Homo sapiens: one gene and its partners. The protein of the gene in region 1 interacts with the protein of each later gene in a pairwise test. Each region holds a gene or a part of one and is shown in the gene's direction. Other genes may lie near its edges.

Evidence for each region.
Region 2: the proteins of PPFIA3 (region 1) and PTPRS interact in a two-hybrid assay, tested with the Homo sapiens proteins (one study listed by BioGRID).
Region 3: the proteins of PPFIA3 (region 1) and PTPRF interact in a two-hybrid assay, tested with the Homo sapiens proteins (one study listed by BioGRID).

Annotation. Positions count from the first base shown.
Region 1 is NC_000019.10:49,140,005-49,143,652, forward strand, and holds part of PPFIA3 (liprin-alpha-3), read left to right. Parts: coding exon 1-84; intron 85-1,415; coding exon 1,416-1,509; intron 1,510-2,029; coding exon 2,030-2,111; intron 2,112-2,799; coding exon 2,800-3,000; intron 3,001-3,648. UniProt on the Homo sapiens protein: May regulate the disassembly of focal adhesions. May localize receptor-like tyrosine phosphatases type 2A at specific sites on the plasma membrane, possibly regulating their interaction with the extracellular environment and their association with substrates.
Region 2 is NC_000019.10:5,208,371-5,211,920, reverse strand, and holds part of PTPRS (receptor-type tyrosine-protein phosphatase S isoform 1 precursor), read left to right. Parts: intron 1-152; coding exon 153-331; intron 332-1,115; coding exon 1,116-1,242; intron 1,243-1,326; coding exon 1,327-1,452; intron 1,453-3,529; coding exon 3,530-3,550. UniProt on the Homo sapiens protein: Cell surface receptor that binds to glycosaminoglycans, including chondroitin sulfate proteoglycans and heparan sulfate proteoglycan.
Region 3 is NC_000001.11:43,607,283-43,610,930, forward strand, and holds part of PTPRF (receptor-type tyrosine-protein phosphatase F isoform 1 precursor), read left to right. Parts: intron 1-1,041; coding exon of another isoform or gene 1,042-1,053; intron 1,054-2,100; coding exon 2,101-2,216; intron 2,217-3,648. UniProt on the Homo sapiens protein: Possible cell adhesion receptor. It possesses an intrinsic protein tyrosine phosphatase activity (PTPase) and dephosphorylates EPHA2 regulating its activity.

The DNA of each region.
Region 1 (3,648 bases):
GCATCAAGTCATCCATAGGCCGTCTCTTTGGCAAGAAAGAGAAGGGACGAATGGGACCCCCAGGCCGGGACAGCTCTTCTCTGGGTGAGTACCTCACTCTAACCCTTCCCTCCTTTGTTCCTTCCTCCCTTCCTCCCTCCCTTTCTTTCTTCTTTGTATGTTCATTTGACATCCATTCATGTCTTCATTCATTTGGTGATTTATTTAGAATTTGGAAGGAACACAGCTTGCCAAGGTAGGCGGGAGGAGGAGGGAAAAGGAAAGGGCACTCTGGGACCTGCTTGGGTGACTGGGTAGGTAAAGGAATTTATTTCCTTTACTTATTTTTTTGTTGTTTTTTGGTTTTTGTTGTTGTTGTTTTGAGATGGAGTTTCACTCTGTCACCCAGGCTGGAGTGCAGTGGCAACGATCTTGGCTCACTGGAACCTCTACCTCCTGGGTTCAAGCGATTCTCCTGCCTCGGCCTCTTGAGCAGCTGGGACTATAGGCGCCCGCCACTATGCCTGGCTAATTTTTTTGTATTTTTAGTAGAGATAGGGTTTCCTCATGTTGGCCAGGCTGGTCTTGAACTCCTGACCTCAGATGATCCACCCACCTCGGCCTCCCAAAGTGCTGGGATTACAGACTCATTTACCTTTTTTTTTTTTTTTTTTTTTTTTTTTTGTTTGGAGACGGAGTCTTGCTCTGTCGCCCAGGCTGGAGTGCAGTGGTGCTATCTCGGCTCACTGCAAGCTCCGCCTCCCAGGTTCATGCCATTCTCCTGCCTCAGCCTCCCCAGTAGCTGGGACTACAGGCGCCCACCACCACGCCCGGCTAACTTTTTGTATTTTCAGTAGAGATGGGGTTTCACCGTGTTAGCCAGGATGGTCTTGATCTCCTGACCTTGTGATCTGCCTGCCTCAGCCTCCCAAAGTGCTGGGATTACAGGTGTGAGCCACCGTGCCCAGCCACCTATTTTTTAAACAGAGGAAGAGGGTGGGGCATCCTCAAAGCAGGGCACCTTCCTGTGGTGTGCTGGAGCCCGCTGGCACTGGCTCAGGAGATCCGCTATTTCAGGAATTGGCTGACATCACACTGGTAGCTTGAAATTGGCCATGGTGGGATTATTTACACCATGGAAATGGGCAAATGCTACAAATCAGGGATTCCCTTCTGCCTCCCCAAGGAGCCGGTTGTTAGGCATTTACCAGCATACAACTGCCACCTTACCAAGGGCATCCCAGTGCATCCAGCCGTATTTTGGGGATGACTCCAATTCATGGGCGCTTGTCTGCCTTTATCACTTCCTCGATGTGCCCTCACTCACTACTCCCTCAGGGCCTCTGCCTTTCCGGCATTTTCCTCATCACCTCCAGCATGAAAGATTCTGCCTCCCCCTTGAGATTTTCCAAATTTCGACCCCTCCCTGCCTCCAGCTGGAACACCCTCAGATGAGACACTGGCCACTGACCCTCTGGGGCTAGCCAAGCTGACAGGCCCAGGAGACAAGGACCGAAGGAACAAGAGGAAGTGAGTGTGTGTGAGTGTGAGCGTGTGTGTGTGTATGTGAATGTGAGAGTGTGTGAGGGTGTGTGTGTGCGTGTATGTGTGTGTATGAGTGTGTGTGTGTGTGAGAGGGTGTGTGAGTGTGTGTGTGCAGCGGTGGTGGTGGTGAACAGAAATGGGAATTCAATGCTGGGAGGAGGTGTCCGTGATCCTGAACTTGCTTGCCTGGAAACCCAGGAGCTCCTAGAGTTTTTATTTTTTCTTTCTTTTTTTAAAAATTTTTTTTGTATTTTTTACATTTATATTATATTTTTTGTTTCTTTTGTTTTTCTTATTTTGTTCTCTCTTTTGATAGGGGTTGGGGGGAGAGGATTTACAGATTCACATGTATTTTTTGACCTTCTGCCGTGTTTTGTACATTCATAAAAGCTGCGTGTGCGTATGTGCATGTGTGTGTGTGTGTATGTGTGCTGATGGGGGCCATCCACAGAGCAGGGGGTCTCCATCCCTGACAGCTTCTATCCTGGCCCCTTCACCCTTACAGGCATGAACTCCTGGAGGAGGCCTGCCGCCAGGGCCTACCTTTTGCTGCCTGGGACGGGCCCACCGTGGTGTCCTGGCTGGAGGTACTGGGGCCCAGAAATGCCCTGACTGTTGGTCCCCAACCCCTCTGACAGCCCCACTGGTAGGGGCTGCCTGGTCCTCCTGGCGCACCCTGCTTCTAGCCCAGAGGTGGGGGTGGCCATGGGCCTGGCAGGTGAGGACCCAGGAGGGCTCGGGCTTCCTGTTCACCTAAACAGTTTCTTTCTCCTTCTCCTTCTGCCCCTGCCACTCTGGCCTTGCCCACCTGGGTCATGGTCTCCTGTCGTTCTCTCTACTCTCTCTTTCTGGATTCTCTGTCTCTATTTTTCGGCACCATTCCCATCTCTGACCACGCTTTTGTCATTCCCCATATTTCTCCTCATGTCTCCGATCGCCCTGCCGATGTCTCCCTGTCTCCGGCTTCCTGTCTCTCCCCACCCTCTATTTCTCTCTCTCTATTTCTTTCTCTCTCTCTCTCTTTCTCTCTCCCTCTCCCTCTTCCCCCACCCGCCCCCCGCCCCCCGTTTCTCTCCCTATTTGTCTCCCTCGGACTCTCCCTCATCTCGTCCACGTCTCTTTTCCTTGTCCTGTTTCTTCTCCTTGCGAACTTTCCCACGTCTCTGTTTCGCTCCCCACCCCCTTGCCTTTCCCCACCTCCCTGTTCCCCCATCTCTCCGATTTTCTCCTCCTCTGTCCCTCTGTCCCCTCTGTCCCTCTGTCCCTCCGCTGCAGCTGTGGGTGGGCATGCCTGCCTGGTATGTGGCCGCCTGCCGGGCCAATGTCAAGAGCGGTGCCATCATGGCCAACCTGTCAGACACGGAGATCCAGCGCGAGATCGGCATCAGCAACCCGCTGCACCGACTCAAGCTACGCCTCGCCATCCAGGAGATGGTCTCGCTCACCTCGCCCTCAGCCCCCGCCTCCTCCCGCACTGTGAGTGTCCGGCGGCCAATTCCAGCCTTCGCTTCCTCAGAGCCCCGCCTCTTGCCCTCAGTCTAGCCAATCCTGGGCCTGCTCACTCCCCTGTCCCACGACCCTGCTTCTCATTGGCTTTTACCCCCCTCAGCCTCCCCTCCACTCCTAACTTGGCCTGTGGTCCGTCCCTGTGGTACTCCAGGAGGGGCCCAGGCCACCTCCTTCCCTGACTCTCTCCCTCTCCTCGGCATTTGCTGTCCCACTCAAATGTCACCACCTCTAAGAAGCTTTCTTTGTCAGCTAAACGAGTTTCCCCATCATTCCGGCATATCAGCACCTTCTAATTTTCCCCATAGCATTTATTGCCTTCTAATTATTTTATCTTTTCTTTCCTTTTTTTTTGGAGACAGAGTTTCGCTCTTGTTGTCCAGGCTGGAGTGCAATGGCGCTATCTCCGCTCACTGCAACCCCTGCCTCCCGGGTTCAAGCCATTCTCCTGTCTCAGCCTCCTGAGTAGCTGGGATTACAGGCGCCCGCCACCACGCCCAGTTAATTTTTGTATTTTTAGTAGAGACAGGGTTTTGACACGTTGGCCAGACTGGTCTTGAACTCCCGACCTCAGGTGATCCGCCCGCCTCGGCCTCCCAAAGTGTTGAGATTACAGGC
Region 2 (3,550 bases), about 44 Mb from region 1:
CCCAAAGAGCCGAAAATCAGGCCCGCCTCGAGCAATGGGGACTAGAAGGTGGTGGCAGGGTGCCCCTACCTACCTATCCACCATTGGTGCTCCAGCTGAAAGCATAGCCTTCCTCATCCTGATGGTGGCCTCTGGCTTCCTCCTCCCCACAGCGGCTGGCTAACTCCAAGGCCCACACGTCACGCTTCATCAGTGCCAATCTGCCTTGTAACAAGTTCAAGAACCGCCTGGTGAACATCATGCCCTATGAGAGCACACGGGTCTGTCTGCAACCCATCCGGGGTGTGGAGGGCTCTGACTACATCAACGCCAGCTTCATTGATGGCTACAGGTAGGTGCCATGCCTTTCCCACCTCAGGGCCCCAGAAGGAGCCCATCTCTACTCTCAAGAGGCCTCCAGTCTTGTGGGAGACAGAGCTGGGGAGATACTGGTAGCCCTGAGCTGTTTAAATACACATCTTTAGATGTATATTTAACTGATGGCTGCTGTCCGTGAATCTTTGGGTGTGTGTTTAACTGATGGCTGCTGTCCATAATGTGATTCCATCTGTTCTATCAGTGGTTCTCAATTGGGGTAATTCTGACACCCTGAGGATATTTCTTATTTTCATGAGTACTACTGGTACTGCCTGGGTGGGGACCAGGCATGCTGCTCAGCATCCTACAGTACACAGAACAGCTTGTCTCAGAGAACAATCCAGCGCCAAATGTCAATAGCACTGAGATTGAGAAATCCTGGCAAAGGAGGGGAGGGTGTTCCTGGCAGAGGGTGCCACATGTGCAAAGGCCCGGGGCTGAGAGCTTGGCCCACGCAAGCAACTGAAAGTAGGGCAGTGGCCCTTGAAGGAGATGGAGGGAAGAAATCAGGAGAGGTTAGTGGATAGTCCCGCAGCTTTGTCAAGGGATTTGAATTTGTCATGAGACTGGTGGTTTCCCCACATGCAAAATGGGATCACCAGGAGGGGAAGTGGTGCACCCAGCAGCCATTCCTGGCAGGCAGTGGGGTGGTAGGTGTAGCTGTCACTGGCTTGGTCCTGACCCTCCCGGGCAGCATCAGGTGAGTACCACGCCGGGTCTCCCTGCCGGCCCTGGGCTCATACCCCCAACGCCTGCAGGCAGCAGAAGGCCTACATCGCGACACAGGGGCCGCTGGCGGAGACCACGGAAGACTTCTGGCGCATGCTGTGGGAGAACAATTCGACGATCGTGGTGATGCTGACCAAGCTGCGGGAGATGGGCCGGGTGAGCTAGGGGCCACAGCAGGGAAGGGCGAGGGCCAGACTGTGGCTCAGACAGCGCTGACCACGGCCGCCATCTCCTCCACAGGAGAAGTGTCACCAGTACTGGCCGGCCGAGCGCTCTGCCCGCTACCAGTACTTTGTGGTAGATCCGATGGCAGAATACAACATGCCTCAGTATATCCTGCGAGAGTTCAAGGTCACAGATGCCCGGGTGAGTGAAGAGACAGACTGGCGGGAGGGGCTGGAGCCTTAGTGATCTGGAAAGGGCTGCCCTGGTTGGTGATGGATACAAAGGCCAAGGGTTAGGCATAAGCATTGGGAATCAGGAGAAGTGTCAGCTGACCAGTTGGCCACTTGCTTCTACTGCCACATAGGTGGAAGAGAGGGTCTTATCTCTGTGCTGACCCTGCAGTGTCTCCACTCACTAGGGAACATGGCCCCAGGGGATGATATTCAAGGAAGTGAATGGGGCTTTCCTCTGGAAGCAGCCACCTGTGGAGGATGATGTTAAAGGGCTGAAAGGGACTTGAGGGATTGAGGGTGAGGGGTGGTAGACGGTGGACAAGGAGAGTCAGATGGTGGGGACTGGCACCGTTGGGTGAGGAGAGATGAGTATGGATGGTGTTGGCTCAATGAAGGACTGCAGTGTCAGGTGGAGGGAGAAAGGCCAGGTATTAGGTGGCAACAGATGAAGACTCATAGTGGAAGGTGGCCCTGTTGGGTGACAAAGGATCAAAGTTAGTGGTGGAAGATCGACGATGGTAGAGAACGCAGTGAGGGGATGATAGAGGATGGGGAATGTTGGCCAAGATGATGCCAAAGGATGGTGAAGGCTGCTGAATGAACAGCAATCACCGGGCATTGTGCTGTGAGCAGTGCAAGATGGTGCCCTTGGAGGGGTGGAATCTGGAATTGGAGAGAAGAACATTCGCATAACAGGATGGAGAATGTCAGTGGAATGTGGTAGTTTGGGTCAGTGAAGGGTGATGCTTTATCAGTGATGGATGGAGGAAGACAGAATTGGAGAAGGGCAAATGTTTGGCCAGCAGGGGGTGGAGAAAATCAATGGGAAATACTAGGACTAAGAAAGGACAGTAAACAATAGTCAATGGTATAAACCAATGGGTGGTACAAGATTGAGGAAGATGGGGTTGGGAAAGGAGATTTTAGAAAATGTAAAACATCAGGGAAAGATGGTACATTGGATGGCAAATGGTGGCAGAGGATAACAATTTTGGATGGCACCATTTTGATGGTGGAGGATGGGATTAGAACAAGGCAGATGATGGGGAATGGAGAATGTCAGTGGAAGATGGTACCCTTGGATGGTGGAGAGTGATGAATTGTTAGTGATGGATGGTGGAAAATGGCACCATTGAGTTGTGAAGGATGGAAGATGGCAGAGAATGATGTGGTTGGATGGCACCACTGGGTGGTAGGAAAGGAGACTGCAAAGAGGAATGGTTGAGTAGTGGGGAATGAAGACAGTCAGTGGAAGATGCCATCACTGAATGGTTAAGGATGAGTTACCAAGAGGGGATGGTGGTGGATGATGGAAGATGATGGTGTTGGGTGGAACTCGGGACGGCAGAAGGTAGTGAGTTACCAGCAGTGGGTGGTAGCAGTGGCACTGTTATTGGATGGTGGAAGATGATGGTGTTGGATGGTGGACGATGAAAGATGATGGCACCATTGGGTTGTAGAAGATGAGTCATCATTGATGAGCTATGGACAGTGATGGAGTTGAGTTGTGCTGTAGGGCCCCGAAATGGCACAGAGTGGAAGATGACAGAGGATCATGGTGAATAGGAGCTGGGAAGGGCAGAGCTGGTTGCACTATGGGATGGCAAAGGATGGAGGATGGAGGTGCTGGATGTCATACAGGAAATGTGGGGAGAGGAACAGCTGGGTGGCAAGAAGTGGTGAGGATGAGGTTGGAGCATCTCTTATGGAAAGCAGTACCATTGGATTGTGAAGGACGGTAAGTTGTCAGGGTAAATGAATGGCAGAGAGTGTACAAAATGGGGGTGAGGGCCGGGCCTGGTGGCTCATGCCTGTAATCCCAGCTAATCGGGAGGCTGAGGCAGGAGAATTACTTGAATCACTGGAGGTGGAGGTTGCAGTGAGCCGAGATCACGCCATTGCACTCCAACCTGGGCGACAAGAGTGAAACTCCATCTCAAAAACAAACAAACAAACAAAAAATGGGGGTGAAGATAGGGAGGATGGAGAAAAACCCCCATGGCCGCTGCTGACCTGATAACAAGATTGGGCTCTCTGCACTCTAGGATGGCCAGTCCCGGACTGTC
Region 3 (3,648 bases), on another chromosome or scaffold:
TCAGTTTTAAGACACCGCCATCTCCTGAGCTCCTACCTCGAGTCCTTTCCTTCTGCCACCATTCCTGGATGATTCCCCAGCCCTACTCTCCTGCTTAGGCCTAGAGAGGTCGAGCTGGAGGCCCACAGGCCATGGATGCTCACTAACAGACATGACTGATGGCCTGCTGTGCCCGTGCCATCCGCAGCGGCCTCAGCCTCAGTGTGTCTTTCCCACTCAGTTCTCTATCGGCAGTGGCCACCACCTGCCCTAGGAGTCTCCCTTCCTATCCGTGCACCTTCCAGCCTGAAAGGGATTTCCAAAGATTTAACTTTGTCACTCTCAGTTTAAAACCTTTTGATGGCTGCCCACGTAAAGCCCACCCTCTTTAGCCTGACAGCCAAACACCTGGCTAATCTGACCCCTGCCACACTCCTGACATTGCGACACTGAACTCATTCAGTGTTCAGGCCCACACAGGGTGTGCCCTCTGCGGATCTCCCTCCCCCTGCCCACTTGGCAACAGCAATCTCATCGTTCAGGACTCAAGTCCATGCTCTGGTGCCTGCAAGGCCTTGCCTGGCCCCTACCCCTTCCTTGCACAGCTGTCCCCTGTGATGCTCCACTGCAAACGCAGCTGGGCCTGTGTGCCAAGCCTTCAGCCCCCAGCACTGGGCTGAGCCCACAGGCATGTCAGTGAGCACCTGGCAGATGAAGATATGCTAGTCTGTGTGTCTGAGCACATCTCTGCACCATGCAGGAGAGCCTGTATCCTGTGTGCCTACCCTGGACCCACTGTTCCTTCCTAAAGAGTCCACTCCTTCCTCCCAGGGTGGATGGACCTGTGGGCGGGTCCCTAAGGAGTGTCCCACAGATGCACTCATCCTTCCCACTTCCACCTGCATTCTGGGTCTGTCCAGAGAGGTAGACCCCCTCCCTGTGAATGTCATGTGGGTGCCATATAAGGGGCCTGCAGGGTCCCCATGTCATTAGAGGGCTGAGTGCTTGGTGGAAACTGTGACCGTTCCTTTCTTCTGTCCTTGCTTGTCTTTCGGGACCTAGTAAACAAGAAAGGTAGGAGTTGTTCCTTCTCTCTTCACACACCTCCCCCTCTACTTCTAATCCTTGGGCCAGCAGGGAGGGATGACGCTTTGACCAGAAGTCCCCTGGCCTATGGCTTTAAGCAGCAAACTGTCCAGTCAGCTCAGCAGGCTCCCTGGTTCAGGACTGAGTCCTCATTGGTGTGAGGAGGCAGTTTCTGTCTCACTCTTGCCAGTTCAACTCTGCAGAGGATGCTTCTTCTCTGGGGCACATACATAATACAGACTGCATTGCTTTCCCTGAGCGTACAGAGCTCACCAGAACCATCACCCGGCTCCCAGTTCTCTGAGAAGTTGCCTAAGTGCTGCGAGAGACAGTCTCGCACAGAGCAAAGAGCAGTCACTGTGTGGAACAGCAGAGAGGCATGTCCTTGTACCCACCTGAGCACACTCACTCAAATTCTTCTTTCCGAAGCACATGCGTCTGCAGACCACAAGTAGCCTCTGGCTATTTGTTGGCAGCTGAATCCTATGGTCTGTCTCTGACCCTGTCCTTGTAGATGGGAAAACTGAGGCCAGTGAGAGAGGACTCTGCCCAGCTAGGGTGACGCCTTTCCCGTCCCTCCCCTGCTGCCCTGGGCATTTACCCTGATACTCTGAGGGCCAAAAAGCTGGGGCCCTGTCTCCTGTGCTGTTTGTGTATTTTATGTGTCATTTGCATGTTTGTTCCCGGTGGTTCCTGCTACTCAGCTGGGTGGCCTTGGAGATAGCAGTCACTGTCCTGCAGTGACCTGCCTTCTATCCAAAGGAGCTGCTCGCCCCTGCAACCCCTTCCTCCCTGCTGCACTGCCCCTCTGCTCACGCCACACTCCTGCTCTCCCTACCCCCTCCCTGCCCTGTGTTCTCTCATGTCAAGGCTGTTCTGGCCCTGGCTCCTCCGCGCTCAGAGATCCTGGGAAGAGGTGGGGCAGTAGGAGGACAGAGCCGTGGACATGGGGGCTCCTTGGCAGCCAGCCATGCCATGTGTCACTGTCTCAGCCTGGACCTCAGGTTCTCACCAGCCTCCCTTCTGTCTCTCTAGGAAAAGGACCCACTCTCCGTCCTCTAAGGATGAGCAGTCGATCGGACTGAAGGACTCCTTGCTGGCCCACTCCTCTGACCCTGTGGAGATGCGGAGGCTCAACTACCAGACCCCAGGTAGGGCACTCCTATGGCCTGTGTGCCCCCAGCCCAGACCTAGCAGGCCTGTGGGTCTGTTCTGCAGGTCTCAGGGTCGCCACTGAAGTTCCTGGGCCGCATGCACTTGTTCCTGCTCCTTTTCTTCCTTTCTGCCCTTCTCCCTGTGCTCATCCACTTTGGTTGGAATGACTGGGGAGCCCCCATATCCTGCAGCTGGACAGGTGCCCCAGGCCAGGACCCTCTTAGGTGGCAAAGCCACTTAGCCACTGCCTTGTCTTCAGTCAAGGCCTCTGAATATGGGCTGAGGACCTCCCAGAGCCCACGTCTCTGCCACAGGGTGGCCAGTGTCTGGCGCACGCTCTGACGCCTCCACATGAAAGAGGGGCATGTTAGCAGTGGGAGATGCCTCACCAGACATCTGTGGGGAGATGAAGTGCCTGCACCTGAGCCTTCCTGGAGGCCGACCCCAGGTTTACCATACCACGTACCTGCCCCTTCTCCTAGCCACTCTCATGGGGCTGTCCACCTCTTCCTTCTACCTGAAATGTTACTCCTCCCAACACCCAGCAGACACAGCTCAGACCTCTCCTCTTGCCCACACCCCCACAGGGTTAGGTGTCTCTTCTTGGCTCCAGGAACCTCCCTCCTTCTTCCTTTTGACGCCTCTCACAGTGAGCTGGGATTACCTCAGTGACAGTCTCTGAGCTCTGTGGTGCCAGGAACTGTGTCTTGTCATCCCCCATCCCTTGTATTCAGCGCACGATGGGTTCTTGTTGAATGCCTGTGAAATGAACACACAGACAAATGAAGGAATGAGTGAACTAATGCATACACACAGGGTTTGTGTATGTATGAGCTGGTTATTCTGCATGTCAAATTACCCCAAAACTTAGTGGCTTAAAACAACAATAATTATGTATTATCTGTCACAGTTTTTGTGAGGCAGGAATTCAGACAGGGGCACAGCAGGAACAGCTTGTCTTTATTCCAGAAAGTCTGGGCCCTCAGCCGGAAGACTTGAAGGCTGGGAGCTAGAGTCATTTAAAGCAGGGGTTGGCAGACTATGGCCCGTGGCCAAGTACAGCCCACCACCTGTTTTTGTAAATAAATTTTTACTGGCTGGGCGTGGTGGCTCATGCCTGTGATCCCAGCACTTTGGGAGGCTGAGCCGGGTGGATCACCTGAGGTCAGGAGTTCGAGACCAGCTAATGAAATCCCATCTCTACTAAAAGTACAAAAATTAGCCAGGTGTGTGGCCCCTGTCATCCCAGCTACTCAGGAGGCTGAGGCAGGAGAATCACTTGAACCCAGGAGGTAGAGGTTGCGTGAGCCAAGATCGTACCATCGCATTCCAGCCTGGGTGACAAGAGCAAAACCCCATCTCAAAAATAAACAAATAAATAAAATTCTACTGGAACAGACACACCCATTTATTTATATGCTACCTACC